4 linked regions of the Homo sapiens genome follow. The gene in region 3 interacts genetically with the main gene of each other region. Each region holds a gene or a part of one and is shown on either strand. Other genes may lie near its edges.

What was found.
Region 1: changes in KRAS (region 3) and SNAP23 are lethal when combined (synthetic lethality), as found in Homo sapiens cells (3 studies listed by BioGRID, with this or other methods).
Region 2: changes in KRAS (region 3) and SNRPD2 are lethal when combined (synthetic lethality), as found in Homo sapiens cells (3 studies listed by BioGRID, with this or other methods).
Region 4: changes in KRAS (region 3) and SNW1 are lethal when combined (synthetic lethality), as found in Homo sapiens cells (3 studies listed by BioGRID, with this or other methods).

The regions. Positions count from the first base shown.
Region 1 is NC_000015.10:42,491,775-42,498,653, forward strand, and holds the start of SNAP23 (synaptosomal-associated protein 23), read left to right. Parts: upstream 1-3,859; 5' UTR 3,860-3,939; intron 3,940-6,879. UniProt on the Homo sapiens protein: Essential component of the high affinity receptor for the general membrane fusion machinery and an important regulator of transport vesicle docking and fusion.
Region 2 is NC_000019.10:45,688,931-45,696,040, reverse strand, and holds the start of SNRPD2 (small nuclear ribonucleoprotein Sm D2), read left to right. Parts: upstream 1-4,087; 5' UTR 4,088-4,152; coding exon 4,153-4,154; intron 4,155-5,373; exon of another isoform or gene 5,374-5,469; intron 5,470-6,693; exon of another isoform or gene 6,694-6,808; intron 6,809-7,110. Other genes in the region: QPCTL (glutaminyl-peptide cyclotransferase-like protein), read right to left, coding at 323-604, 2,485-2,628, 3,131-3,337. UniProt on the Homo sapiens protein: Plays a role in pre-mRNA splicing as a core component of the spliceosomal U1, U2, U4 and U5 small nuclear ribonucleoproteins (snRNPs), the building blocks of the spliceosome.
Region 3 is NC_000012.12:25,247,905-25,255,022, reverse strand, and holds the start of KRAS (GTPase KRas), read left to right. Parts: upstream 1-4,093; 5' UTR 4,094-4,272; intron 4,273-7,118. UniProt on the Homo sapiens protein: Ras proteins bind GDP/GTP and possess intrinsic GTPase activity. Plays an important role in the regulation of cell proliferation.
Region 4 is NC_000014.9:77,730,155-77,737,179, forward strand, and holds part of SNW1 (SNW domain-containing protein 1), read right to left. Parts: intron 6,922-7,025; coding exon 6,817-6,921; intron 5,853-6,816; coding exon 5,783-5,852; intron 4,859-5,782; coding exon 4,793-4,858; intron 2,448-4,792; coding exon 2,331-2,447; intron 976-2,330; coding exon 834-975; intron 1-833. UniProt on the Homo sapiens protein: Involved in pre-mRNA splicing as component of the spliceosome. As a component of the minor spliceosome, involved in the splicing of U12-type introns in pre-mRNAs.

The sequences.
Region 1 (6,879 bases), on a different chromosome or scaffold from region 3:
TTTCACCATGTTGCCCAGGCTGGTCTCAAACTCCTCGGCTCAAGTGATCTGCCTGCCTTGGCCTTCCAAAGTTCTGGGATTGCAGGTGTCAGCCACCGCGCCCAGCCTACATTTATTATTTATTTATTTAGTTAGTTAGTTAGTTAGTTATTTTGAGATGGAGTCTTGCTCTGTCGTTCAGGCTGTAGTGCAGAACCGCTCTCTTGGTTCACTGCAACCTCCACCTTCCGGGTTCAAGCGATAATCCTGCCTCAGCCTCCCAAGTAGCTGGAATTACAGACGTGCACTACCACGCCCAACTAATTTTTGTATTTTTAGTAGAGATGGGGTTTCGCCATATTGGCCAGGCAGGTCTCAAACTCCTGACTTCAAATGATCCGCCCACCTCGGCTTCCCTAAGTGCTGGTATTACAGGTGTGAGCCACCGCGCCCGGCCGCCTATATTTATTATTAAACTTAGCCCATACCCATTCCCTCAGAAACCTAATTTTAGTGACTAAGACTATCAGATAAATGAAATGACATTCAGGTTGATAATTATGTGGAGTGTCCCTCCTATATTATTGAGATTATAACATCTCTGTTTAACAAGACCTTCAACGTCTCAAATAAAAGTAAGCAGCGGTGGGGCACAGTGGCTCACGCCTGTAATCCCAGCACTTTGGGAGGACGAGGTGGGCAGATCATGAGGTCCAGAGATCGAGACCATCCTGGCCAACATGGTGAAACCCCTTCTCTACTAAAAACACAAAAATTAGCTGGGCGTGGTGGTGCGTGCCTGTAGTCCCAGCTACTCGGAAGGCTGAGGAAGGAGAATCGCTTGAACCCGGGAGTCGGAGGTTGCAGTGAGCCGAGACCTCGCCCCTGCACTCCAGCCTAGCGACAGAGCGAGACTGCGTCTCAAAAAAAAAAAAAAAAAAAAAAAGAGAGAGAAAAAAGAAAGGAAGCGGCTATATTAACCTCTTCTATGTAAATCCAGATTTGTTCTAGAGGTTTAGGAAACTTCCAATTCCGTGTTTGTGACATCACAAGTCCTTGAAACACTCAAGGGTTGTGGTACGCTGCTCATTCTATTCTCCTTCAAAGGCATGCAATGGAGGAACTATTTTACCCTATAAACTCTGGGCCATCATTCAGGGAAAAGCCTGTAGAAGACCACAGTCAGATATTGGTGAGTGCCAAGGTAACGCTAGATTATGGTTTCTCAACTTTGGGATTACTGACATTTTGGAACATATACTTTTTTGTCAGGGGTATCCTGTGCATTATAAGATGTTTAGCAGCAGACTGGGAGCAGTGGCTCACACATGTAATCCTATAACTTTGGGAGGTCAAGGGAGGCAGATCGCTTGAGTCCAGGAGTTTGAGACCAGCCTGGGTGACATGGTGAAACCGTGTCTCTACAAAAAATGCAGAAATTAGCCGGCAGTGGTGGTGCACACCTGTAGTCCCAGCTACTCAGGAGGCTGAGGTGGGAGGATTTGAGCTGCAAAGGTAGAGGTTGCAGTGAGCTGACATCACACCATTGCACTCCAGCCTGAGCAACAGAGCAAGACCTTCTCTCTCTCTCTCTCTCTCTCTATATATATATACATATATGTGTGTGCGTGTGTGTGTATGTATGTTTAGCAGCACTGTTGGACACGATGCTAGTAGTACCCACCCCCGTTTCCCTGTCATCACAATAAAGCATCTCCAGACATTGCCAAATATCCCCCGGAGGACAAAATCGTCCCTGGTTGAGAACCACGGAATTATATCAATGACCATCACAACCCTAAATGAACTAATGAACTCAACCATACATTTTCTCCACCTCTGCCCTCAACAAGTGACTGCTGCTTGAGAAATTTACACAGGAGGGCAGAAAATGGTGAGTTCATTTTTGCCCATATTAAAAAGGCCCTCAATATTGCTTACCAGTCCTACAACATTCTTCTGTCAACTTGTTGTATTACTTTCTACAATATTCCAAATCTTCTCAGCTTTCCTTTAAACTCCCAATACCACCTCCTTTTCTATCAGAAGATGACCCCATCTTCAACTTCACAGAGAAAACAAGTCAGCAAATGAGAACTTTAACTTCCTGTTACTAAACATACAGAAACATACTTCCTCTCATAATTGGGGAAATATCTCCTCTCTCTCTCTTTCTCCCTCCCTGCCCTCTTCCAAAACCATTATTCTTACCAGTGTTTCGAACTGCCTCTAAACTGCCTCTATTCTTACCCTTTCAAGATCTTTGCCTACTGACTATCCCTTCTCTTCCTTTATTCAACCATTTTTTTCTCAGTTGAATCTTCCCTACCATGCTCAAGTTTCTCCTGTCTTAATTCTAACAAAAATCAAAAAAACAAAAACAAAAAATCTTGATCCTTCATCATTCTCCCTCCTTCCTCCCTGTCAAGGCCAAACTTTCCAAAAGCATTCTACAACTTGTCCCCATCTCTACATCTCCCCCACCTCCAAACTACTAAGTTGTTTTTTTCAACCCCAGCATTCCAACAAACAGCTTTCACTGAGATAATCAGTGACCTCTGTGTTATGAAATTAAAAAAAACATTTCTCAGGCTTCATCTTCCTTGATCCCTTAGGAATAGACTACTTACTCCTTGAAGCACTTTTTTTTTTTTTTTTTGAGATGGAGTCTGGCACTGTCGCCAGTGATAGACATTATGATAGTAATGTAGCTGGGATTACAGACACCCGCCACCACACCCAGCTATTTTTTCTTTCTTTTTTTTTTTTTTTTGTAGGGGGGACGGAATTTCACTCTCGTTGCCCAGCCTGGAGTGCAATGGCATGATCTTGGCCCACTGCAACCTCCGCCTCCCAGGTTCAAGCGATTCTCCTGCCTCAGCCTCCCGACTAGCTGGGATTACAGGCGCCTGCCACCATGCCCGGCTAATTTTTTGTATTTTTAGTAGAGATGGGGTTTCTCTATGTTGGCCAGGCTGGTCTGGAACTCCTGACCTCGTGATCTGCCCGCTTCAGCCTCCCAAAGTGCTGGGATTGATTACAGGCGTGAGCCACTGTGCCTGGTGAAGCACTTTCTTTTCTTGATTTCCAGCAGTTTATTTTATTCTTAGAGGTGCATGGAGGGGTTCCTGCAGCAAATAGTTTACAATAATCCTCCATCTGCTTAAAACTCTTCAATAGCTTTCAGTGCCCCTAGTACAAAGTGGTCTAAAATTCCAAGGCCTTCCAAGATCTAGCGATTGTTGGCCTTCTAAAGCTTTCTTTCCTCTACACTCGGGGATGTACGATTAGCACTAAGCCTCTAACAAGGATGAACTACTAGAAATTTCCAGAAGGCGTTATGCTGTTCTCGACATAAGCTGTTCCCCAGAGCCTGGAAAACTCTAGCTCTTTCTCTGCCGGATTTCCGGGGGAACTCCTACTTATCCTTCATGACTCAAGTCACTTCCTCCGGGAACCCTTCCAGACACCCCTAAGAATAAAACGCTTTGTTCATTATCAGCCAAAGGCGCCTCAAATTTTCTATGTGCTATGCACTGTATTCTATCCACTATAATTTGTTTACATATCTATATCTTAGTCTAGACATATTGAAAGGCGATGAAGAGCAGGGAAAGCACTGTATTCGCTTTCTTTTCTTCAGCGTTCATCCAGCACAGTGCCTGGCATACGGTTTGCCCTCAGTAAATGTTTATTGCATGAACACCTCCCAGCTTCGGGCAGGACTGAAATCTATCCGGTTAACTAGTGAATTCCCAGACTCTCCGTCTGCGTGGCAGGGACATTTAAACCCCCAGCACCGTGATTGGCTCCAGCTGCAGGGGTGTGTCTGTGTCCGCGGCGAACGGGAAGTGAGCAGGCGCGCGGGCTCGGCGCGCGCAGGCGCGACTAGGGTGCAGCGCCAGGTCCGGTGTTGGGGTGTCCGAGTTGCCGCCGGAGAGGAGTGGCCTCGCCCGCTTGGTGAGTCTCCAGGAGTGGGACGGAGGGAGCTGGCCGGGATGAAGTCTGAGACTATGTCCTGAGAAGAAAGAGTGTATCGTATTGGTTGAAAAGTTGGTGGGGTCGGGCTTAAGCGGAGGAGGGGGCTCTCTGGCCCTTACTCGGCAGATGGGCCCGGAGAGAGGACGGGAGGTGCCGGGAGAACATCGAGGGACCAGTGGAGGAAGGGTAGCTGGATGGTAATTCTCTGGACCCTTCCTCGAAATTAAACAGAGATCACTTTCCGCCCCTCACCCTTACTGTGTTGCTGTAGTTGACATTAATAGACTGCCTGTATGGTGACCACAGTGATCAGATAGCTCTGAGATAATGGCTTGAGGAAGGACTCTGAGGTTCCTGGTATTGGATAGCCCTTGCTCTCTAGAAAGGTTCAGCCTTACCTCGCGGCATTACTGCACAAATTAGAGGATCAGGAAAAGAATGAATTTCACAATTCGGGATTGGAGTGGTGGGGGGAAAAAGTACTGTAAAGTGTAGTTTCATCTCGTCCTTTTTTTCTTCTTTAATCAGTCACCACAATGTTAGGAAAGGCAGTTGATGGTAGGAGGAAACGTAAAGACATAAAAGTGGGAGAGGAAAAAAAAGTCAAGAAGGGAGTATCATTTTGCCTTTTGCTATTTGTCATCTCCTGGAATGGGGTCTGTATTAGTGCGTTCTCACACTGCTATAAAGAAGTACCCAAGGCCGGGCTTGGTGGCTAACGCCTGTAATCCCAGCACTTTGGGAGGTCGAGGAGAGAGGATCATATGAGATCAGGAGTTCGAGACCAGCCTGGCCAACATGATGAAATCCCATCTCTACTAAAAATACAAAAATTAGCCAGGCGTGGTGGTATATGCTTGTAATCCCAGCTACTCCGGAGGCTGAGGCAGGAGAATCACTTGAACCTGGGAAACAGAGGTTGCAGTGAACCGAGATCGTGCCACTGAGCTTCAGCCTGGGAGACAGAGTCAGGCTCCAACTCAAAAAAAAACAAAAAGCAAAAGAAATACTCGAGACTGGGTAATTTATAAAGGAAGGAAGTTTAATTGACTCTCAGTTCTGCATGGCTGGGGAGGCCTCAGGAAACTTATAATCATGGTGGAAAGCAAAGGAGAAGCCAAGCACCTTCTTCACAGGATGGCAGGAGAGAGACAGTGAAGGGGAAAAAGCCCCTTATAAAACCAGTATCATGAGAACAGCATGGGGGAAACCACCCCCATAATCCAATCACCTCTCACCAGATTCGAGATGAGATTATGAATAGCCAAACTGTATCATTCTGCCCCTGGCCCCTTTCTTTCTTTCTTTCTTTTTTTTTTTTTTTGAGATGGAGTCTCACACTCTGTCACCCAGGCTGGAGTGCAGTGGCGCGATCTTGGCTTACTACAACCTCCAACACTTCAAGCGATTCTCCTCCCTCACACTCCTGAGTAGCTGAGACTACAAATGTGTGCCACCAAACCTGGCTAATTTTTTTTTTTTTTTTTTTTTTGAGATGGGGTCTTGCTCTGTCGCTCAGGCTGGAGTGCAGTGGCGCGATCTTGGCTCACTGCGACCTCCGCCTCCCAGGGTCAAGCAATTCTTCTGCCTCAACGTCCCAAGTAGCTGGGATTACAGGCACCTGCCACCAGGCCTGGCTAATTTTTGTATTTTTAGTAGAGATGGGGTTTTGCCATGTTGGCCAGGCTGGTCTCAAACTCCTGACCTCAGGTTATCCACCGGCCTCCGCCTCCCAAAGTGCTGGGATTACAGGCGTGAGCCACCGCGCCTGGCTAATTTTTGCATTTTTTAGTAGAGACGGGGTTTCACTCTATTGGCCAGGCTGGTCTCAAACGCCTGACCTCATGATCCACCCACCTCATCTTCCCAAGGTGCTGGGATTACAGGCATGAGCCACCACGCCCAGATTCCCTGGCCCCTTTCAAATCTCATGTCCTCACAGTTCAAAACACAATCATGCCTTCCCAACAGGCCTCCAAAATCTTAACTCATTCCAGTATTAACCCAAAAGTCCAAGTCCAAAGTCTCATCTGAGACAAGGCAAGTCCCTTTTGCCTAGGAGCCTGTAAAATCAAAAGCAAGTTAGTTACTTCTAAAGATGCTATGGGGGAATAGGCATTGGTAAATGCTCCCATTCCAAATGGGAGAAATTGGCCAAAACAAAGGGGCTACCGGCCCTATGCAAGTCCAAAATCCAGTGGGACAGCCATTACGTCTTAAAACTTATTTTAATCTCCTTAGACTCCATGTCTCACATCTAGGGCACGCTGATGCCAAGGGTGGGCTCCCAAGGCCTTGAGCAGTTCTGACCCTGTGGCTTTGCAGGGTTCAGGCCCAGAGGCTGCTCTGCTGGGCTGGCATTGAGTGCCTGAGGCTTTTCCAGGTTCATAGTGCAAGCTGTTTGTAGACCTGCCATTCTGGAGTCTGGAGAATGGTGGCCCTCTTCTCACAGCTCCACTAGGCAGTGCCCCAGTGGGGATTCTGGGGGGTGGGCGGTGTCCAATCCCACGTTTCCTTTCTGCAGTGCCCTAGCAGAGGTTCTCCATGAGGTCTCTTCCACTGCAGCAGACTTTGGCCTGGACATCCAGGCATTTCCGTACATCCTCTGAAATCTAGACAGAGGTTCCCAAACCTCAATTCTTGACTTCTGTGCACCTGCAGGCCCAGCTACCACGTGGAAGCTACCAAGGTTTGGGGCTTGCACCCTCTGAAGCAACAGCCCAAGCTGTACCTTGACCCCTTTTAGCCAGGAGCTGGAGCAGCTGGGACTCAGGGCCCCAAGTTCTGAGGCTGCCCACGAAACCATTTTTTCTTCCTAGGCCTCAGGTCTTGTGATGGGAGGGGCTGCCATGAAGATCTCTGATATGCCCTGGAGACATTTTTCCCATTGTTTTGGTGATTAACATTCAGCTCCTTGTT
Region 2 (7,110 bases), on a different chromosome or scaffold from region 3:
CTGTGATGACCAGGCGCGGTGGCTCACGCCTGTAATCCCAGCACTTTGAGAGGCCGAGGTGGGCAGATCACCTGAGGTTGGGAGGAGAATTGCTTGAACCCAGTAGGCAGAGGTTGCGGGGAGCCAAGATCTCGCCATGTGCACTCCATCCTGGGGAACAAGAGCGAAACTCCGTCTCAAAAAAAAAAAAAAGATCCCTGTGGCTCTGTGCGTGGAGTAGAGTGGGAAGACGAGAGGGATGACAAATGTCCAGGCAAGGGAGGGTGGGGGCTTGGGAAAAGGTGGAGGTAGCCCACTACCCTCCCCGACTCCTGCTCCTCACCTGTTTTTTGGCCCTGCTCAGCTCCAGGTCAAGTGCTTGGGCCAGCTCCAGCAGCAGGGCACAGGGCACAGCCGAATCCGTGGCCCCTACAAAGGGGGTCGATCCGGGTGGGAAGAGCTTCGAGTCATAATGGCAGGCAAGGGTGAGGTGACGGGCAGCCCTTGGGTCCAGTGTGGCCACCACATTGCCAAAGTCCACTGGCCCCAGGGGTGTTGAGGCTGTGAAGGGATCCAGCTCCACGTGCCAACCTGCTGTCAGGGACCGCAGCGTGGCCTCCAGGAACTAGCGGCAAGAGAGAGGTGGGAGGGTGGACGGGGACTGGGGAGGAGGTGGGGAGAAGGGCCACGTGACCTGAGCCATGCAGAGCAGATGGGTTGACACTAAAGCCCCACTCTGATTGAATGGATTTCTTTCTTTCTTTCTTTTTTTTTTTGAGATGGAGTCTTGCTCTGTCACCCAGGCTGGAGTGCAGTGGCTTGATCTTGGCTCACTGCAACCTCTGCCTCCTGGCTTCAAGTGATTCTCCTGACTCAGCCTCCTGAGTAGCTGGGGTTACAGGCGCCCCCTACAACGCCTGGCTATTTTTTGTATTTTTAGTAGAGATGGGGTTTCACAATGTTGGCCAGCCTGGTATTCGAACTCCTGACCTCAAGTGATCTGCCTGCTTCAGCATCCCAAAGTGTTGGGATTACAGATGTGAGCCACTGTGCCCAGCCCCCTACTCTGATTAAAATCATTCCCTTGACAGTGCTGGTGAGTACCTACTGGGTGCCAGATGTTGGGGAGACCCCACCTCTTGAAGCCAGCAAGACTCATCACAGCTTACCCTTAAATAGCTCTCACTGTGTGCTAAGCCCTCTTCTAGGAACCATTTAGGGGAGGGACTGCCAATACATGACCCCATTTTACAGATGAGGAAATGGGCTCAGAGAGGTTAAGAAACTAGTCCAGGCCGGGCGCGGTGGCTCACGCCTGTAATCCCAGCACTTTGGGAGGCTGAGGTGGGCGGATCATAAGGTCAGGAGTTTGAGACCAGCCTGGCCAATATGGTGAAACCCCGTCTCACTAAAAATACAAAAAATTAGCCAGGCATGGTGGTGCACACCTGTAATCCCAGCTACTCAGGAGGCTGAAGCATGAGATTTGCTTGAACCTGGGAGGTGGAGGTTGCAGTGAGCCGAGATCGCGCCACTGCACTCCAACCCAGGCGACAGTGTGAGACTCCATCTCAAAATAAAATAAAATAAAATAAAATAAAAAAGAAACCAGTCCAAGGTCACAATCTAAGTGGATGAGGTAGCATTGGGACTCAGGCAGTATTTAAGTGACTTTTTTTTTTTGAGATGGAGTCTCGCTCTGTCACCCATGCTGGGGTGCAGTGGCGCAATCTCAGCTCACTGCAGTCTCCGCCTCCTGGGTTCAAGTGATTCTCGTGCCTCAGCCTCCCAAGTAGCTGGGACTACGGGTACCCACCACCACGCCTGGCTAATTTTGTATTTTTAGTAGAGATGAGGTTTCACCATGTTGGCCAGGCTGGTCTCAAACTCCTGATCTCGAGGGATCTGCCTGTCTCGGCCTCCCAAAGTGCTGGGATTAGAGGTGTGAACCACTGCGCCTGGCCTTTAAATGACTCTTCATGCTTTCTGGAAGACAACAGATACATTACAGCACCAGCTCGGAGCCAACCTGTTTGGGTTCAACTCTAGGTCTATGATTTTCTAAACATTGGGTCTCACTAGGTTGACTAGGCTAGTCTCAAACTTCTCAGGTGATTCTTCCACCTTGGCTTCCCAAAGTGCTGGGATTACAGGCATGAGCCACTGCACCCGGCTAAGGTCTACTACTTATTATCTGTAGGATTTGTGCAATGTGTATAACCTCTCTGAGCCTCAGTTTCCCCATCTGCATAATGAAGATCATATTGGTACCCACCTTATAGGGCTGTCTGTTGCCTATGCCTAGCACACAGTAAGCTTTTGGTGGGGGCATTAAGGGGGGCAGTACAGCCTGGTGGTTTGTTACCAGCATGGAGTCTAGAGTCCGATTAACTCCAGTCAGAGCCCCAGTTCCTCCTCTTAGCTTCTTTGGGATCTTGAACAGGATTCTTATTTCCCATTCCCTGGAGGGCTAGGGGGTCAGGGACTGGAGGTGGGTCCCTTTACCTTTCTGACTTGGAGATTTCCCGGGCTGCCCGGGGTTCGCACAACCAGCAGGGGGCGCAGATAAGTGCTCCAGAGACGCTGTGGATCCAGTTGTCCCACCACCCTCCGCAGCCGGGCTTCGGGGAGGCTTCCGATCAATGGGACCTTGGGAAGGAGGTGGGATAGGGAAGGGAAGAATGAGAGCAACCCCCCCATTTCAACCCTACCCCGGGCGCCGTCACCCGCGAGGAGCCCCGGGTTCTCTTCCTAATCTGCCGCCTCCAGCATCGGAGACTTCTAGGATAAATCCAAGGCTCAGGAAAAGTCCTTCCAAGACCATCCGGTCCAGCCTACCTCAAACTTGATGGGGAAATCGAGGCCCAGTGAGAGAGAGGGGAGATGGAGGAAGGGACTCTTCCAAATAGTTGACTAAAGGCGTAGAACCCTGAACCCCCCCGTCTTACTATTTCAGACCTTTCCTCTTAAAAGGAAGCTACTGTTGCAGAACCAGCCCGAAGCCTTATTCCTTTGGTAAGGGTCATGCGCTCAGATGACGAAGACGGTGGCATCTGCGGTTAGGGCCGTACGCTAAAGCCACGTCAACCCTGGGTAACAGCGGGGAGGGAATGAGGGTCCCCGCGGTGCCCGGGTCCCCGCCCAGCCTCACCCGCAGCTCCCGGCCCAGCGGCAGCTCCTCAGTCCTGCGGTGCCAGCCGCTCCAAATGGTGTAGAACGCCGAGCCCACGGCCAGCGCCAGCAACAGAGGCAAGAGCCGAACCCGCGGTAGCAGGCGGCGCTTCGGCGGCAAGAGTGGCTCCATGAGGCCACGTTCCCCCAGCCGCAGGCGGGGTCGCCCGCGGCCCCCGGAACGCATGGCCGCTTTGCCCTGAAACCTGTACCAGACCACGGATTGAGTTTAGGCCCAGCCAAGTTCCTCCCCATGGAATCGGTGGGCCAATAAGCAACAGCTGCGGCTGCACCAGCCCACCCCACAGCGAGCAGCGAAACCAATAAGAACTACGGTCCTGAGGACACGCCTCCCAGCCTCCCTTAGGTATTGGGGTTGGTTCCCCTGAGAATGGCACGACCCAAATGGGAGCGCAAGAGAAGTAGGCTCCGCCTTAGCGGAGGAGGGAAAGCCAATGAACAGCGTTTGATCATGGAAAATATTCGATCTCCCGGGCGCAGGTCCATGCCCCTTCCGGATGTAGGCAGGGGATTGGTGGCGCAGGGTCGGAAAGATCAGTAGATACGTCAGTAACGCGTCCCAGAGGGAAGAGGGGCGGTGCCTGTCTCCGAAGCGAGGAGCGGATTGGCTTCACGGAGGCCGCGCCCCCGAAGTCACGGCCGGCGGGCATTTGGAAATAGCTTGTCATTTCCCTCCTTCAACCTGTACCATTCTTCAAGAAACGGTTTGAATCAGACTGCCTTTCCTTTTGTCTTCATTGTCATAAACATCTGCCCCCGTGTGGTTCTGACTGGCCGCGAACCCCTACCCGAAGCTTTTATTCCATCATTGTGCACCGTTGGTGGGGAATGCTGTGGCAACAGGCCACGCCTCCACTTACTGGTTGGCTTTGCGCAGGCGCCAACGGAAGTGGGTCGCAGGAAGAGGAAGTCCCGCCTCTCTCTCCTCAGGCAGCAGCAACGCGGAGGAAACGGGAGTGAACGGAGAGCGTAGTGACCATCATGTGAGGCCGGGCTAGGCTTAGGCGGCGGGAATGAGGTTGAGGGTGGATATTTGACCGATTGAGTGTGGGAAGGGTTGAGCAGAGCGGGGGGGGCAGGGGCAGATGTTTTAGGGATGCAGCGTCCTGCTTTTCTCCTGATGAGTTTGAGAACGGGCGTGGGGCCTTTGACGCATCGTGACTTCGGGAGAGGGGACAGCTTTATCAGATAACGCCCTGGGCTGGGCGCGGGGGCTCATTCCTGTGATCCCAGCACTTTAGTAGGCCAAGGCGGAGCATCGCTGGAACACAGGAGTTCGAGACTAGCCTAGGCAACATAGCGAGACCCCCGTCTCTACAAAAAAAAAAAAAAATTTAATTATGAAAAACATGTTTTAAACGATAACGGGAGTGGTCCTAGATAATTAGTCCTATTGAAATGAATGTTAAGGGGCAGCGATTTTACGAATACTGGGGGAGGCCGAGCGCGGTGGCTCAGGTTTGTAAATCCCAGCACTTTGGGAGGCCGAGGCGGGCGGATCACCTGAGGTCAGGAGTTTGAGACCAGCCTGGCCATTGTGGTGAAACCCCGTCTCTAACAAAAATACAAAAATTAGCCGGCCGTAGTGGCGGGCGCCTGTAATTGCAGCTATTCGGGAGGCTGAGGCCGGAGGATCGCTTGAACCCGGGAGGCGGAGGTTGCAGTGAGCCGAGATTGCGCCACTGCACTTCCAGCCTGAGCGACAGAGTAAGACTCCATCTCAAAACGAAACAAAAGAAATAAAACGAATAATGGGGGAGGGAAGTTAGGACTTTTAGAAATAATTATTTGAAATAAGGGACTTATCTTGATCATTTGAGCTGGAGACGGGTGCGTTTTCGACTTGATTCACAACTTACACGGATAACGAACGAGTCATTGACATGATTTTGCGCATTTATTAGTGCAGCAGATATTACATTGAATGCTTATGTATCAGACACTGCTTAAGCTACATAGGATACATCAGTGAATGAAACCTCTAGTCCCCAAGGGAAAAGAAAAATCTTTTTCTCTTTTTCTTTTTTTTTTTTTTTTTGAGACGGAGCCTTGCTCTGTTGCTCAGGCTGTAGTGCAATGGTGCGATCTCAGCTCACTGCAACCTCCGCCGCCTGAGTTGAAGCGATTCTCCTGCCTCAGCCTCCCGAGTAGCTAGGATTACAGGCACCCACCACCATGCCCAGCTAACTTTCGTATTTTTAGTAGAGACCAGGTTTCACCATGTTGGCCAAGCTGGTCTCAAACTCCTGACCTCAAATGATCCACCCGCCTCGACCTTCCAAAGTGCTGGGATTACAGGTGTGAGCCACCGTGTCTGGTCGGGGTTTTACTTTCTACACTGAGATGGGGGGAGGATGGGAGGGTTTTCTTTTGTTTTGTTTGTTTGAGATGGAGTCTCGCTCTGTCACCCAGATTGGAGTGTAGTAGCACGAGCTCTGTCTCCTGGGTTCAAGCGATCTTCCTGCCTCAGCCTTCAAAGTAGCTAGGATTACAAGCATGCGCCACCATGCCCAGCTAATTTTTTTTTTTTTTTTTTTTTTGAGACGGAGTCTCGCTGTCGCCCAGGCTGGCGTGCAGTGGCGCAATCTCGGCTCACTGCAGCCTCCGCCCCCTGGGGTTCACGCCATTCTCCTGCCTCAGCCTCCCGAGTAGCTGGGACTACAGGCGCCCGCCACCTCGCCCGGCTAATTTTTTGTATTTTCAGTAGAGACGGGGTTTCACCGTGTTAGCCAGGATGGTCTCGATCTCCTGACCTCGTGATCCGCCCGCCTCGGCCTCCCAAAGTGCTGGGATTACAGGCGTGAGCCACCGCGCCCGGCCTAATTTTTTTTTTGAGATGGAGTCTCACTCTGTAGCCCAAGCTGGAGTGCAGTGGCGCAATCTTGGCTCACTGCAACCTTCGCTGCTGGGGCTCAAGCGTTTCTGCTGCCTCAGCCTCCCAAGTAGCTGGGACTAGAGGGATGCGCCACCACACCTGGTTAATTTGTTTGCATTTTTAGAAGAGACAGGGTTTCACCATCTTGCCCTGGGTGGTCTCGAACTCCTGAGCTCAGGCGATCCACCTCGCGTCGGCCTCCCAAAGTGCTGGGATTACAGGCGTGAGCCATCGCATCTGGCCTAATTTTTGTATTTTCTAATTTGTATTTATTTATTTTTTGAGACAAGAGTCTCGCTCTGTCACCCAGGCTGGAGTGCAGTGGCATGATCTCACTTCACTGCAACCTCCGACTCTCTGAGTTCAAGCAATTCTTCTACTTTAACCTCCCGAGTAGCTGAGATTACAGGCGTGCACCACCACGCCTGGCTAATTTTCTGTTGGTTGTTTTTTTTATTGTTGTTTTGTTTTGTTTTGTTTTGTATTTTTAGTAGAAATGGGGTTTCACCATGTTGGCCAGGCTGGTCTCGAACTCCTCACATCAAGTGATCAATCCACCTTGACCTCCTAAAGTGCTAGGATTACAGGCATGAGCCACTGTACCCATACCCTGGGAGGGTTTTGAAGAGTGACATGTTATGATTTAGGTTTTAGCACAACCCCCTCAGACCACTCTGTGGAGAACAGACTGTCAGGGAACGTGGGTGGAGGCAGAGAGACCAGAAAGATTCCAGGACAGAGATGACAGAGGCTTAGGCCATGGTAAGAAACGGCCATTTCCTACAGATTTCATGTAGGATGTGAGGGAAAAAGAGGAATCAAGTTGACAAAAGAGTTTTTGCCCAGAGAACTAGAAGGATGGAGTTACCATCAAAGCAGATGGGGAACGCTGTAGATAGGGTAGGCTTGGGTGGTTGGGTGATCTGGATCCCGACCTGAGACATGCAGAGTTGAAAATGTCTGGCTGGGCACGGTGGCTCACGCCTATAATCTCAGCACTTTGGGAGGTCGAGGCGGGTGGATCACAAGGTCAAGAAATCAAGACCATCCTGGCCAACATGGTG
Region 3 (7,118 bases):
GTGCTAAGAACTATGAAAACATAGAATTAAAAGAAATGGGCCTGGAATAATTTACAACCTAGTAAAGCAGTTATGGGAAAACATATTTGCAAAAAAGGTATACAAAGTATAATGAAATAAGTGTCCAGTAAGGATAAAGTGCAGAGTAAGTGAATTAAGCAGCACCCATTCATGTGTTCAAATTCCTGCCAGAGTCAAAAGGTTGTGCTGAAGTAGAGTCCATGAAAGCATCGTAGATGGCTCCTCCTGCTCAAGTTCCCCTGCTCTGCGTCCTGCTACTCTGGCCACAACCGTCTGGACCCAGGGTTGACACACAAACAAACACAATAATCTTTTAGCCAGACATAAAGAAGGCCAGCCACCAATCAGGAAAATTGTGTCCCATAAAGGCCCTTCCTATTGAACAGTGAATGACAGACATGGCCAGATCTTCTCTCTTGGAATGCTTTGAATGTTAGTCACAGAGAGTGACCACTAGAAGCACAGATAGCAGTAGAAGCTAAGACTACATGAAAAAGCAGTGGACAGATGGTGATTTATGAGAATGGCAAAATTACTAGAGTCATAGGCAATGGATACTTGTTAATGAAGGGATGAGCAGGGCCCCACAGCCTGTTGCTGGCTCACAAGTGCAGTTGATTGCTGGACTGAACAGCAGCTCTCCGCCTGATGATAGGGTTTTTTAAAGTGTCCTTATTGCCTTAAAGTAAATCCTCAGCATTTGCAGTGCTCTGAGGGTGTCCTAGCATTTTATACCTTTTTTCTAAGAGCCCAGGTAACATAAGGGTACTCCTGTTGTTCTGGCTTTAATTCTATCTGCAGAAGAGGGTTTCTTGTGAAAGAAAGGGTCAGTATGGTCTTTTATCTGTACAGCAGATAAAAAGGGTATGTACGTGCACACCTTTGTACGTGGCTGCCTTCCCAGGACAGTCTGACAGTAGAGGGTAGAAACTTCAGTTGTAGCTGAGAGCAGGCCTGGAATCCCCATGCTTATACTTTTTATTTCCTCCCCCCTTTCCCATTGTGATCACAGGCTACTTCAGTGTGCTTGTCCTTGGAGAGAGCAAGGGAAGGGAGAGCCAGGGAGACTGTTCAAGGGAGCCACCAGGCTCGAGAAAGAGGAACCCCTGAAGACAGTAGAAAGTGCAGGTGCCAAGAATTTGAATATCTACATCAGAGTTTCTCAATGTGCACACAGTGAACTACCAGTTTAGGATCATTTGATTTGCTAAAAATGAAGATTACTGGTCTACCTTAGACCAACTGAATAAAATATCTGGGTGAGGGGCCTAGGAACTTGCATTTTTGGTAGGCATGGCAGGTGATTCCTAAAGCATTTACCCTTGAGACCTCTATGTTAAGGAAAGAAAGGTAATGTTGCAAGGAGGTGGTGCCGGCTTCTAAGAAAGTACCCAGGACTGAACGGCAGAAAGACCTGACATACCATATGTATAAATTGCTGTGGAAGTGAAAAGGAAAGAGAAAGTGTCTGAGGTAAAACTGGAGTGTGGGGTGCGTGGAACAAATGGTTGGATGCAGATTTGCTTTACGAATCATGAGCCTAGATGATAACTGAGACCATGTGGATGGATTAGGTTTCTGCTAATGCCAGAATTTTTATAATCAGCATAAAAGTGCTATATAAAGCTTTCCCCTCTTCTATATTATAGTCCTTTTAAGATGTATGGAACATCAACTATAGGAAGAACATCATATTCACAGCTGTAAGAGGAAACAAGAACTTATCATGCACTTGATGTTGTACAAAATAAATCTGTGATTTATGCTTGAGTGACCACAAAGTAGCATACACATAAGCGCAAATTCATTCATTTAAGAATTCCTTGTGTCTATTATGTACGAGATAAGTATCTCTGAGCTGCACGGAATGTGGCTTATCAGAAGGTGACCTAAGTTTCAAAGCAGATTTTGTTAAGATGAAGACAGAGATTGACAGGAGGTTTAAGACACTCTGTCTAAAGTAAAGATTTAGAGTCACAGAGTTCATGGATTAGGATTTAGAATCCACAGAGGGTCCACAGATTCACTCATTCAACATTCCATAAATATTTATTGAATGCCTTTTTGTGTCAGAGACTGTCTTAGGTGCTGGAAATTTAGCAGTAAATGAAACAGACCAAAACCCATGCCCTCATGGAGCTTACATTCTGATGGTAGAGAGACAAGAAAACAAAATAGATAGTGTATTATTGAAGGTGATGAGAGCTCTGGAGAAAAAGTAGGAAAAGAGACAGATCTGGGACAAGGGCGAAATTACAGTATCAAAGATGATCTTTTTAGGGAAGATCTCCTTTTAAAAACACTTTGGAACAAAGATTTAAATGAGGTGCCAGAGGGGTAGCAAGTGCATATTCCCTGAGGAAGACGCCTGCCTGGCATTTTCAAGGAACAGCCAGTAACCAATGTTTATCTACGTAAGTAAGGAAGGGAGAACAGTAGGATGAGAGTTCAGAGAAGAGGGTAGGGGATATCAAATAATTTAAGGCCATGTAGGATTTTTGAGAAGAATTTTGCTTTTATGTCAAGTGGAATGAGGGCCACTGATGATCTGGGAGTAGAGTGACTATGATCCGACATGAAGTATACTCCATTTTTTAACTATGTGAACTTGTGCCAACGTTTTAACCTCTAAATCTGTTTCGTCATTTGTAAAACGGTAAAAAGTATTTTACCTCATAAGGTTGTCGTGATGATTAAATAAGATGATACGATAAGTGCAAAAGATTTAGCTTGTACTTAACATAGAGTAGGCACATTTTCTCCCCTTCCCTGTCTTTCACTTTTCTCTTCTGCCCCTTCCACCTGGCGCTAGGAGGGGGAGACTGGAATAAACCTTGCAGATTACAGCCCGTGTAAGAGTAGAAAGGAAAGGATGACAGTTGATGTAAAGCCTTGGTTAACAGACATAATAGCTGGGATTTAAATTCAGCTTTATTGGTGGTTTATGATGTGGACTAGAGGAATGGAACTGAAAGTCTCGGAGGAGGGGCGATCCTATCAGGTACAGGCGCTGCTTTTCCAGCCCTCAATCCTCAAGACTCTCCCAAGATACATTTCTAGGTAGTTTATCAACACAGACTCCGGGTATGCTAGCATGTTTAATTGCCCCATTGTTTAATGTCTTAACTCCACGAACTTTAACTGATTAATCTGTCTTCTAATTAATGTTTGAATGACTCTCCTCAGGTCTAAACTACCAAGGCCATCTCTACTTAAAAACAGTTGTCTTTTGTTTGTGATTTCAGGGGCCCTGGGTATAAGCGAAGTCCCTGTTTAGAGACCTTGTGATGGGTTCAAAATATCAAGAAAGATAGCAAAATATCACAAGCCTCCTGACCCGAGAAGATTAGCGTTGAAAGGGTCTGTCGTGTTTGTTTGGGCCTGGGGCTAAATTCCCAGCCCAAGTGCTGAGGCTGATAATAATCGGGGCGGCGATCAGACAGCCCCGGTGTGGGAAATCGTCCGCCCGGTCTCCCTAAGTCCCCGAAGTCGCCTCCCACTTTTGGTGACTGCTTGTTTATTTACATGCAGTCAATGATAGTAAATGGATGCGCGCCAGTATAGGCCGACCCTGAGGGTGGCGGGGTGCTCTTCGCAGCTTCTCTGTGGAGACCGGTCAGCGGGGCGGCGTGGCCGCTCGCGGCGTCTCCCTGGTGGCATCCGCACAGCCCGCCGCGGTCCGGTCCCGCTCCGGGTCAGAATTGGCGGCTGCGGGGACAGCCTTGCGGCTAGGCAGGGGGCGGGCCGCCGCGTGGGTCCGGCAGTCCCTCCTCCCGCCAAGGCGCCGCCCAGACCCGCTCTCCAGCCGGCCCGGCTCGCCACCCTAGACCGCCCCAGCCACCCCTTCCTCCGCCGGCCCGGCCCCCGCTCCTCCCCCGCCGGCCCGGCCCGGCCCCCTCCTTCTCCCCGCCGGCGCTCGCTGCCTCCCCCTCTTCCCTCTTCCCACACCGCCCTCAGCCGCTCCCTCTCGTACGCCCGTCTGAAGAAGAATCGAGCGCGGAACGCATCGATAGCTCTGCCCTCTGCGGCCGCCCGGCCCCGAACTCATCGGTGTGCTCGGAGCTCGATTTTCCTAGGCGGCGGCCGCGGCGGCGGAGGCAGCAGCGGCGGCGGCAGTGGCGGCGGCGAAGGTGGCGGCGGCTCGGCCAGTACTCCCGGCCCCCGCCATTTCGGACTGGGAGCGAGCGCGGCGCAGGCACTGAAGGCGGCGGCGGGGCCAGAGGCTCAGCGGCTCCCAGGTGCGGGAGAGAGGTACGGAGCGGACCACCCCTCCTGGGCCCCTGCCCGGGTCCCGACCCTCTTTGCCGGCGCCGGGCGGGGCCGGCGGCGAGTGAATGAATTAGGGGTCCCCGGAGGGGCGGGTGGGGGGCGCGGGCGCGGGGTCGGGGCGGGCTGGGTGAGAGGGGTCTGCAGGGGGGAGGCGCGCGGACGCGGCGGCGCGGGGAGTGAGGAATGGGCGGTGCGGGGCTGAGGAGGGTGAGGCTGGAGGCGGTCGCCGCTGGTGCTGCTTCCTGGACGGGGAACCCCTTCCTTCCTCCTCCCCGAGAGCCGCGGCTGGAGGCTTCTGGGGAGAAACTCGGGCCGGGCCGGCTGCCCCTCGGAGCGGTGGGGTGCGGTGGAGGTTACTCCCGCGGCGCCCCGGCCTCCCCTCCCCCTCTCCCCGCTCCCGCACCTCTTGCCTCCCTTTCCAGCACTCGGCTGCCTCGGTCCAGCCTTCCCTGCTGCATTTGGCATCTCTAGGACGAAGGTATAAACTTCTCCCTCGAGCGCAGGCTGGACGGATAGTGGTCCTTTTCCGTGTGTAGGGGATGTGTGAGTAAGAGGGGAGGTCACGTTTTGGAAGAGCATAGGAAAGTGCTTAGAGACCACTGTTTGAGGTTATTGTGTTTGGAAAAAAATGCATCTGCCTCCGAGTTCCTGAATGCTCCCCTCCCCCATGTATGGGCTGTGACATTGCTGTGGCCACAAAGGAGGAGGTGGAGGTAGAGATGGTGGAAGAACAGGTGGCCAACACCCTACACGTAGAGCCTGTGACCTACAGTGAAAAGGAAAAAGTTAATCCCAGATGGTCTGTTTTGCTTGGTCAAGTTAAACCCGAAGAAAACCCGCAGAGCAGAAGCAAGGCTTTTTCCTTGCTAGTTGAGTGTAGACAGCAATAGCAAAAATAGTACTTGAAGTTTAATTTACCTGTTCTTGTCCTTTCCCCTATTTCTTATGTATTACCCTCATCCCCTCGTCTCTTTTATACTACCCTCATTTTGCAGATGTGTTCTACATCTCAAGAGTTATTACAGTACTCCAAAACAGCACTTACATGATTTTTTAAACTTACAGAGGAATTGTAGCAATCCACCAGCTAACCGCCTGAAATAGACTTAAACATGTGCATCTCCTTTTTTTTTTTTTTTTTGAGACACAGTCTCGCTCTGTTGCCCAGGCTGGAGTGCAATGGCGCGGTATCGGCTCACTGAAACCTCCGCCTCCTGGGTTCAAGCAATTCTCCTGCCTCAGCCTCCCGAGTAGCTGGGACTAGTAGGTGCACGCCACCATGCCCAGCTAATTTTTGTATTTTTAGTAGAGACAGAGTTTCATCATGTTGGTCAGGATGGTCTCCATCTGCTCTGTTGCCCAGGCTGGAGTGCAGTGGCGCCGTCTCGGCTCACTGCAACCTCTGCCTCCTGCATTCAAGCAATTCTCCTGCCTCAGCCTCCCGAATAACTGGGATTACAGGTGTCTGCTGCCATGCCCGGCTAATTTTTTGTATTTTTAGTAGAGACGGGGGTTTCACCATGTTGGTCAGGCTGGTCTAGAACTCCTGACCTCGTGATCTGCCCGCCTCGGCCTCCCACAGTGGCATGTGCATCTTATAGCTGAAGTCTAAGCCTTCTTAAATCTTGAGATCCATCAAAACAGACAGGTTTTCTAATTGTTATACAATGTATATGTTATGTTTATAATAGAAATCATTTTACAAATAAGTTATAAATGGGAAAGGTCTATTTGTAATTATCAGCTCAGAATTAACCATAAAACTGGTGTCACTGAAGTGACTGAGGTCCAAAATGCTGACTCTGCATGTTATAGACTACAGATATCAAATATGGTTGCTAACAATAGTTTACTTTGAGACTGTAGCCATCCACAGTATATTTGCTTTTAAGAGATGGTAGATGGTAATTCAGTTTTATGAAAAATAAAAATGAATTTTCTTCCATTACAAAATTGTTGGATTCGAGTCCAGTCCACTCCTTACTAGCTTTTCTAACTCTCGGTGAGGGATCCCCTCCCAGCCCATGATCTTCATTTGGTAAGACTCCTTTGGAACCCAGTTCTCTCTAGTGGATTTAAATGTGATTTGGTTTTAAAAATCTCATTCAAGGAATTTTTTTTTTTTCTGGAAACAACCACCGCATAAACAAGTAAACCGGAAGATACATGTGGCTCTGAATTCATATATATACACAAACTCTAATCCAATGTCTGTCCACAGTATTTCCTAGGCTAGTAAACTTTTTGGCCTTAACGACCCCTCTACCCTCTTTGTTTTTTTGAGAGAGAGAGTCTCACTCTGTCACCCAGGCCGGAATGCAGTGGCGCGATCTCGGCCCGCTACTACCTCCGACTCTCAGGCTCAAGCGATTCTCCCGCCTCAGCTTCCCGAGTAGCCGGGATTACAGGCTCCCGCCACCGGGCTAATTGTATTTTTAGATACGGGATTTCACCATGTTGGCCAGGCTGGTCTCGACCTCCTGACCTCAGGTGATCCGCCCGCCTAAGCCTCCCAAAGTGCTGGGATTACAGGCCACCACACCCGGCCTACACTCTTAAAAATTATCGAAGGGGCCGGGCACATTGGCTCTTATCTGTAATCCCAGCACTTTGGGAGACTGAGGCGGGAGGATCGCTTGAGGCCAGGAGTTGGAGACCAGCGTACTCAACATAGTGAGACCTTGTTATAAAGAAAAAAAAAATCCAGGATTAAAAAAAATCTTTGATTTGTTTGGGATTTATTAATATTTACCGTATTGGAAATTAAAACAATTTTTTAAAATGTATTCATTTAAAAATAATAAGCCCATTACTTGGTAACATGAATA
Region 4 (7,025 bases), on a different chromosome or scaffold from region 3:
TGCTAACAGCACCATCTCAGAAGTGAGGGCTATTTGACCACTCTCACCTTCTGGCAATTTTATATCCTCTTTCCCTGTATTATTTTTCCTCCACAGCAATTATTACCTTTTACTATACTACATGATTAATTTCTGTCTGTCTACACTCACCAGAATGTTGACTGTTATATCCCATCCCCCTACCCACTGTCTAGCAAAAACACTTTGTGTCTAAAAGAGAACCTTGCACACAGCAGATGCTCAATATGAACTAAATAAATGAAAGAATGAATAAATGTACCAGGTAAGAATTTAGTAATGAAAAAAAAATAACCACCCTCACAAAATTTCTTGAATTATACTTAGGACTCGACTTCCCACTCTAATTGAATTAATACACCAATGTAGACCACTAAGTAAAGTCAGAGAGAAAATACTGGCAGATTTAATGATGAGAAATGCATTGGAGCCTACAAGATAGAAAAACTCTGGATTACTTCACCATATGAGGGAGCTGAATTATTCTGTTAGATACCTAATTTCTCTTAAGTTTTGAGATTAAGATAAGAGAAAATCAAGCCTATCATTTGAGTAATAATGCAATTTTGAAAAGTACACTGCTCAGAAGTTTAAAAATTTCTGGTACAGTCCCAAACTGAAGACCCACTTTTTTCTTATCTCCTGTTGCTTCAGCTTACTAAGGCAGAGATTACTCTCCATTTCTACACTATATCTGATGTATCTAAATTTTGTTTATATGTACCTACTTTATATGCAGTAGGAAAAAGATTTTCTAAAATAAGATATATTTTGTTCACCAAGCAAAATTCAATTCAGTAATGAGAATGTCATACCTTTTTCCACATGAGTTTTGATCCCAGCTCTTCTCTCCCTGGCTTTCTGGGCCATTTCTCTAAGTTTCTCTTCATGTTTTTCCTTTTCTTTCTGAGCCATTTTTCTCTCTACTTGGGCACGCATTTCCACAGCTTCACGAGCCTGTTGGTAAAGTCACATGTTAAACAGGACACTATCATGGGATAAATATTTATGGCTATCATCCAACTCCCTAACATCTGGCTGGTAAGAGCAATTATACAGAATTCAGATTTGTTATTGCTAATTAAAACAAAGAGTCTTGTCCACTAAAAGATATCCTGCCTGGAAGACACTGCAAGGTCAGCTTTTTTCTCTGGGAATATTTTAGTGATTGAAACTATCGTGACCCCAATTAATCTTGTAAGTCAAGTATTTCACTAATGCTTTCTCAGAAACAATCTAAAGAACAAAATTAAAGCCAGGCATAGTGGCTCTCTCCTGCAATCCTAGCACTTTGGGAGGCCAGGGTGGAAGGACTGCTTGAGCTCAGGAGCTTGGGACCAGCCTAGGCAACATAGTGAGATCCATCTCAAAAAAATAACATTTTCAAAATTAATAACACTTTCAAAGTTAATCAAGTCAACTCAAGATAAAATCTTAACTTACATCTGCTAGATAATTTTTATAAGGGTACTCACTGTGATACAAAAGACATTTTTTTTATGTTCCAAACACATGCTATGATGCATGTGAACTTCAATATCACATATTAATTCCATAATATTTATATTTACATATATTTTTTGAGATGAAGTGTCTTACTCTGCTGCCCAGGCTGAAGTGCAGTGGTGCGTTCTTGGCTCACTGCAACCTCCACCTCCTGGGTTCGAGAGATTCTCCTGCCTCAGCCTCCCAAGTAGCTAGGATTACAGGTGCATGCCACATCCAGCTAATGTTTGTATTTTTAGTAGAGATGGAGTTTCACCACATTGGTCAGGCTGGTCTTGAACTCTCAACCTCAAGGAATCCACCAGTCTTGGCCTCCCAAAATGCTGGGATTATACACATGAGCCATTGTGCCCAGCCTAATTCCATAATATTTAATACATTATGTAACATTAATAGATGGCCAATGCTATGAACGCCATTTTATGTACTATTCAATTCATTAGAATGTTTATCTGCCTTTTCCTGCAACTGCCCTTTTGGGGGACATCTACATCTAAAATAGAGGAAAATTTGAAATCAAAAATTATGAAACCTAGCAATCTTCAAAAAATGGGATCATCCTAGGAAACCATTATTCTGACATGTTGTGAGGGAGCCGGATCACCACTGTGGGGTGTATGTACACATCTACAAAAGCTGGGAGCATGCAGAGAGCTGCCAACTAGCAGCTGCCATTTCTGACACACGTACCATGGGTGAGACTCTCTTTGGGTGCTCGGTACTATAGTTAAATTATCAGTACCTTAGGTAACCAAGAATGGATTTTAAAAGTAACAAGAGCATTAAACAAATTATAACAAACCAACCTTCCGATCAGCAATGTAGAGGGCTTCTGCCAATTTGGCGAAATTTTCATTTATGTGTACTGTCTGTAGTCCTCTTCCATCAGCAGCCAGACGTTTGTCTAATGGAATTGTATAACCCTAGAGTGAAAGCAGACAGAAAACCCAGTCACAGAAGTGCTTCAATTAATCGTCTGAAGTTAAATTAATTTTATTTTTTTCGAGCTGGAGTCTTGCTCTGTCACCCTGGCTGGAGGGCAGGGGTGCCATCTCGGCTCACTGCAACCTCTGCCTCCTGGGTTCAAGCGAGTCTCCTACCTCAGCCTCCCGAGTAGCTGGGACCATAGGCGTGCGCCACACACTCGGCTAGTTTTTCTATTTTTAGTAGAGACGGAGTTTCACCATGTTGGCCAGGATGGTTTTGAATTCCTGACCTTGAGTGATCCGCCCTTGGCCTCCCAAAGTGCTGGGATTACAGGCATGAGCCATCGAGCCTGGCTAAAATTAAATTTAAATATGCCCACATTTTGAGAACCACTTAACTGGAGGTTCTTTTTCCTTGCATCTTTCTTCACAATGATGCAAAACAACAGCAGCTATCAATGAGTGCTTTATGTAGAAGATCAAGCACTTACACCTATGGTCTCATTTAACCTTCACGATAACTCTATAAAGCTTCTAACATTATTGTGTCCATTTCACTGATGCTTTGGTAACATCCCCAAGGTCATACAGTTAGTAAGTGGGCGATTAGGATTTAAACTCAGCAGGATTTCAGAACCCAAGCTCTGGAAAAATAGATATTTGTGTTAATAATTGTCGATTTTAATAAAAGGAAATCACTGTCAAACAGTTCAACAGTTGCTCCTCAAGTAAATTTAACAGTCAAACAAAGGTAGAATCACTATAATCTTAGCATCTATAGGAAGTTAAATCTGCTGTACTGTCTTAATGATCTGTTATATTCTTAGAATCCTGAAGTTTTAGTAAATAGAAAAAAAAGGCTGGGTGCAGTAGCTCAAGCCTGTAATCCCAACACTTTGGGAGGCCAAGGCAGGTGGATTGCTTGAGCCCAGGAGTTCAAGACCAGCCTGGCAACATGGTGAAACCCCGTCTCTACCAAAAATACAAAAAAGTAGCCAGGCATGGTGGGGCACACTTGTGGTCCCAACTACTCGGGAGGCTGAGGTGGGAGGATCGCCTGAGCCTGGGAGGTTGAGGCTGCAGTGAGCCATGATCATACCACTGTACTCCAGCCTGGGCAACAGAGCGAGACCGTCTCAAAAAAAAAAAAAAAAAAAAAAAAAACCAAAGAAAAAAGAAAAAAAAATGTTTGCTAAACAACTGAATTTCTACATTCTAAAACTTTGCATCCCATTTCAATAACTCAAGAACTGTACTTGAATGTCTATGTAACTTTCAGGCTTAGCTTTATTTTCCAGATATCTGACTAGTCTCTCAAATGTTGACTTTTAGTCCATGGTCTCATAATAAAATGAAGCATTATAGAACCAGCTCAAGATACCATCCAGTTACAAAATACCAATCAACTCAAATCAGACCAGTCGGCAACCTCTTTGTTTAGGGTGAGTATATAAATTCTCTTAAGAAACCTGAAATGGTCTTCTTTATCCATCAAAAATAAAATCATGAACTATGATTCAGGGAAGATGAAACAGTAACTAGCAAATCTATCCCACAATCTACAGATTCTTAACAACTCCTAGAAACTTTGGCAATTATTAGAGATATATAGCTTAAGCCTTCACTACTACAGAGCCCAGTAGTTGAATATTAAAGCACTTAAAGTATCCAAGCATTTACTCTGTTCTTTTGTCATATAATCTTTTACATCAGTTTACTTTCTTTTAGAAATAATTTTTAGATATAAATTTGAGTTTTCTAAATACCATCTTGTATTTATATGACACTTTATTCTACTTATTCCTTCTCTATGTGCTTCTGCTAGCTACAATTCACTAAAAGAACTGATATGGGGCCGGGTGCGGTGGCTCACACCTGCAATCTAAGCCCTTTGGGTGGCCGAGGCCGGCGGATCACAAGGTCGGGAGATCAAGACCAACCTGGCCAACAGGGTGAAACCCCGTTTCTACTAAAATACGAAAAATTAGCCGGACGTGGTGGCATGCGCCTGTAGTCCCAGCTACTCAGGAGGCTGAGGCAGGGCAATCGCTTCAACCTGGGAGGTGGAGGCTGCAGTGAGCTGAGATCATGCCACCGTACTCCAGCCTAGTGACAGAGCGAGACTCCGTCTCAAAAAAAAAAAAGGAACTGACACGGTATTCACGTGCCTGGCATACTAACATTTCTATTACATTAAAAAAGTCACCAAATTGGGCATTCCTTTTTGAAAATGCTCAGTTAAACCACGTGTTGTTTCAACTACAGTTATGCAGGCTGTAGTTGTTTTACTGGTGTTTTCCAGTAGGTTATACTAATAGAGACTGATTTGACAACTTAATTACCTTTGCATTTTTCCAGTTAGAAATACAAGGAGGAATCTTCCACTCTTGTTGTTCCTTTACAGTCATCTGAGAGAAGAGGGAAAGAAGAGACAAGTTTAGATTTATAGTCTACAAAGTAAATCTAAGTATAATCTTTATCTTCAAAGACAGCTCCATATACACTGACATATGCACAGCCGTAGTAAAAGGCCAGCAGTCCATTTGTTTGCTAGCACTAGTTTACCATATAATTCTAGTAATAACTTTGAACTAGTGTGAAAAATGGAAAATAATCTAGAAATTATTCTTGACAGTTATAAATGTTGGCTAGTATTTTTCCATATTTAAAGTGATGTGACTTTTTTCTTTTTTTTATTGAGACGGGGTTTCGCTTTTGTTGCCCAGGATGGAGTGCAATGGTGCAATCTTGGCTCACCACAACCTCCGCCTCCTGGGTTCAAGTGATTCTCCTGCCTCAGCCTCCCAAGTAGCTGGGATTATAGGCATGCGCCACCATGCCCAGCTAATTTTTTTTAAAGTAAAGACGGGGTTTCTCCATGTTGGTCAGGCCGGTCTTGAACTCCCGACTTCAGGTGATCTGCCCGCCTCGGCCTCCCAAAGTGCTGGGATTACAGGCGTGAGCCACCACGCCCGGCCGATGTGACTTCTTTTGGATGAAAAATTGTTCTTTTGATTAACAAAACATATCTTAAAAAGTCAAATTACCAGGGACCTAATGAACCCATATATTCACTTCCTATAACATCCTTAAACTGAAACAGCAGACCCTGTCCATTCCATTAAAAGTAGGGTTTGCATTACTAATAACAAAACTTACAGCTAACATGTTATATACATTCTCATAAGCATTCTTGAAACTTCATCTTGAAAAATAAAAAAAGAAACTACAAGTCAGTGTGGTGACATGCACCTGTATAGGCATAGGGAGGTTATCTATAAAATTAATAACCATGAGTAGAAAAAAATATTTTGGACTACAGCAAAGAATACCTTTCGGCTAGGAGAATGCATGACAGGCGCAGGAGGAGAAGGTGGTCCCCGGGGAATTTTCTTATTAATCCTGAAGTATAAAAACACAACCAGAGAGTGATATAGTTTCCTCCCTTTTAGTCATCATATCAAGTCTCTCCTCCTTTTTCTTGCATAAAAGTTTCAAACATAGACAAAAACAGAGACTGTATAATGATATACATTTACCACTCCACTTTGACAATGAATAAAACATGGCCAACTTTGAAACTGTTACTCACCCCACCTCCACAACATTATTGTCATTTTGCAGAGTAATATACTTTTTTCCACTTTAAAAAGCAGCTTTAGGTCGGGTGCAGTGGCTCATGCCTGTAATCCCAGCACTTTGGGAGGCCAAGGTGGGCAGATCGCCTGACGTCAGGAGATCGAGACCATCCTGGCTAACATGGTGAAACCCTGTCTCTACTAAAAATACAAAAACTTAGCTGGGCATTGTGGTACACGCCTGTAAACCCAGCTACTCAGGAGGCTGAGACAAGAGAATCGCTTGAACCCAGGAGGCAGAGGTTGCAGTGAGCTGAGATCATGCCACTGCACTCCAGCCTGGGTGACAGAGCGAGACTGTCTCTCAAAAAACAAAAACAAAAACAAAAACAAAAACAAAAAAAGGCAGCTTTATTGAGATAATTGACATTTATTAGCTATACATATTTAAAGCATACGATTTGATTAAATTTTGACACAAATATGCACCTGTGAAATCATCATCACAAGCAAGATAGTGAACATGTCTATCATCCCCAAAAGTTTCTGCTTGCCCCTTGCCTATTCCTCTTGTCCCTCCCATCTCCTCTCTGTCCCTACCTCCTTCCCCAGAGGCAACCACCTATCTACTTTCTGTAACTATAGGTTAGTTTGCATTTCCTGGAGTTTTAGATAAATGGAATCATACTGTATGTACTTGTTTTTGCCTGGCTTCTTTCACTCAGCATATTGTTTTGAGATTCATCCATGTTATTGTGTGTATTAGTAGCCTATTCCTTTTCACTTACTTGAACCTTGGAGGCTCCATTGGATCTTTCTGCATTTCTACCATCCGAATAACCCTCTGTTTAGCTCCAGAGTTGAATGCCACTCCTTGCTGAGATGGTGTGTATCTGAAGAAAGCAGATAAAAACTAAAGGTGTAATTAGTTCAAGCTTTCAGTAGGTATTTTCCTTCTATTACAATCTTAAGCTAGACTACATTTTCAATTCCTTTC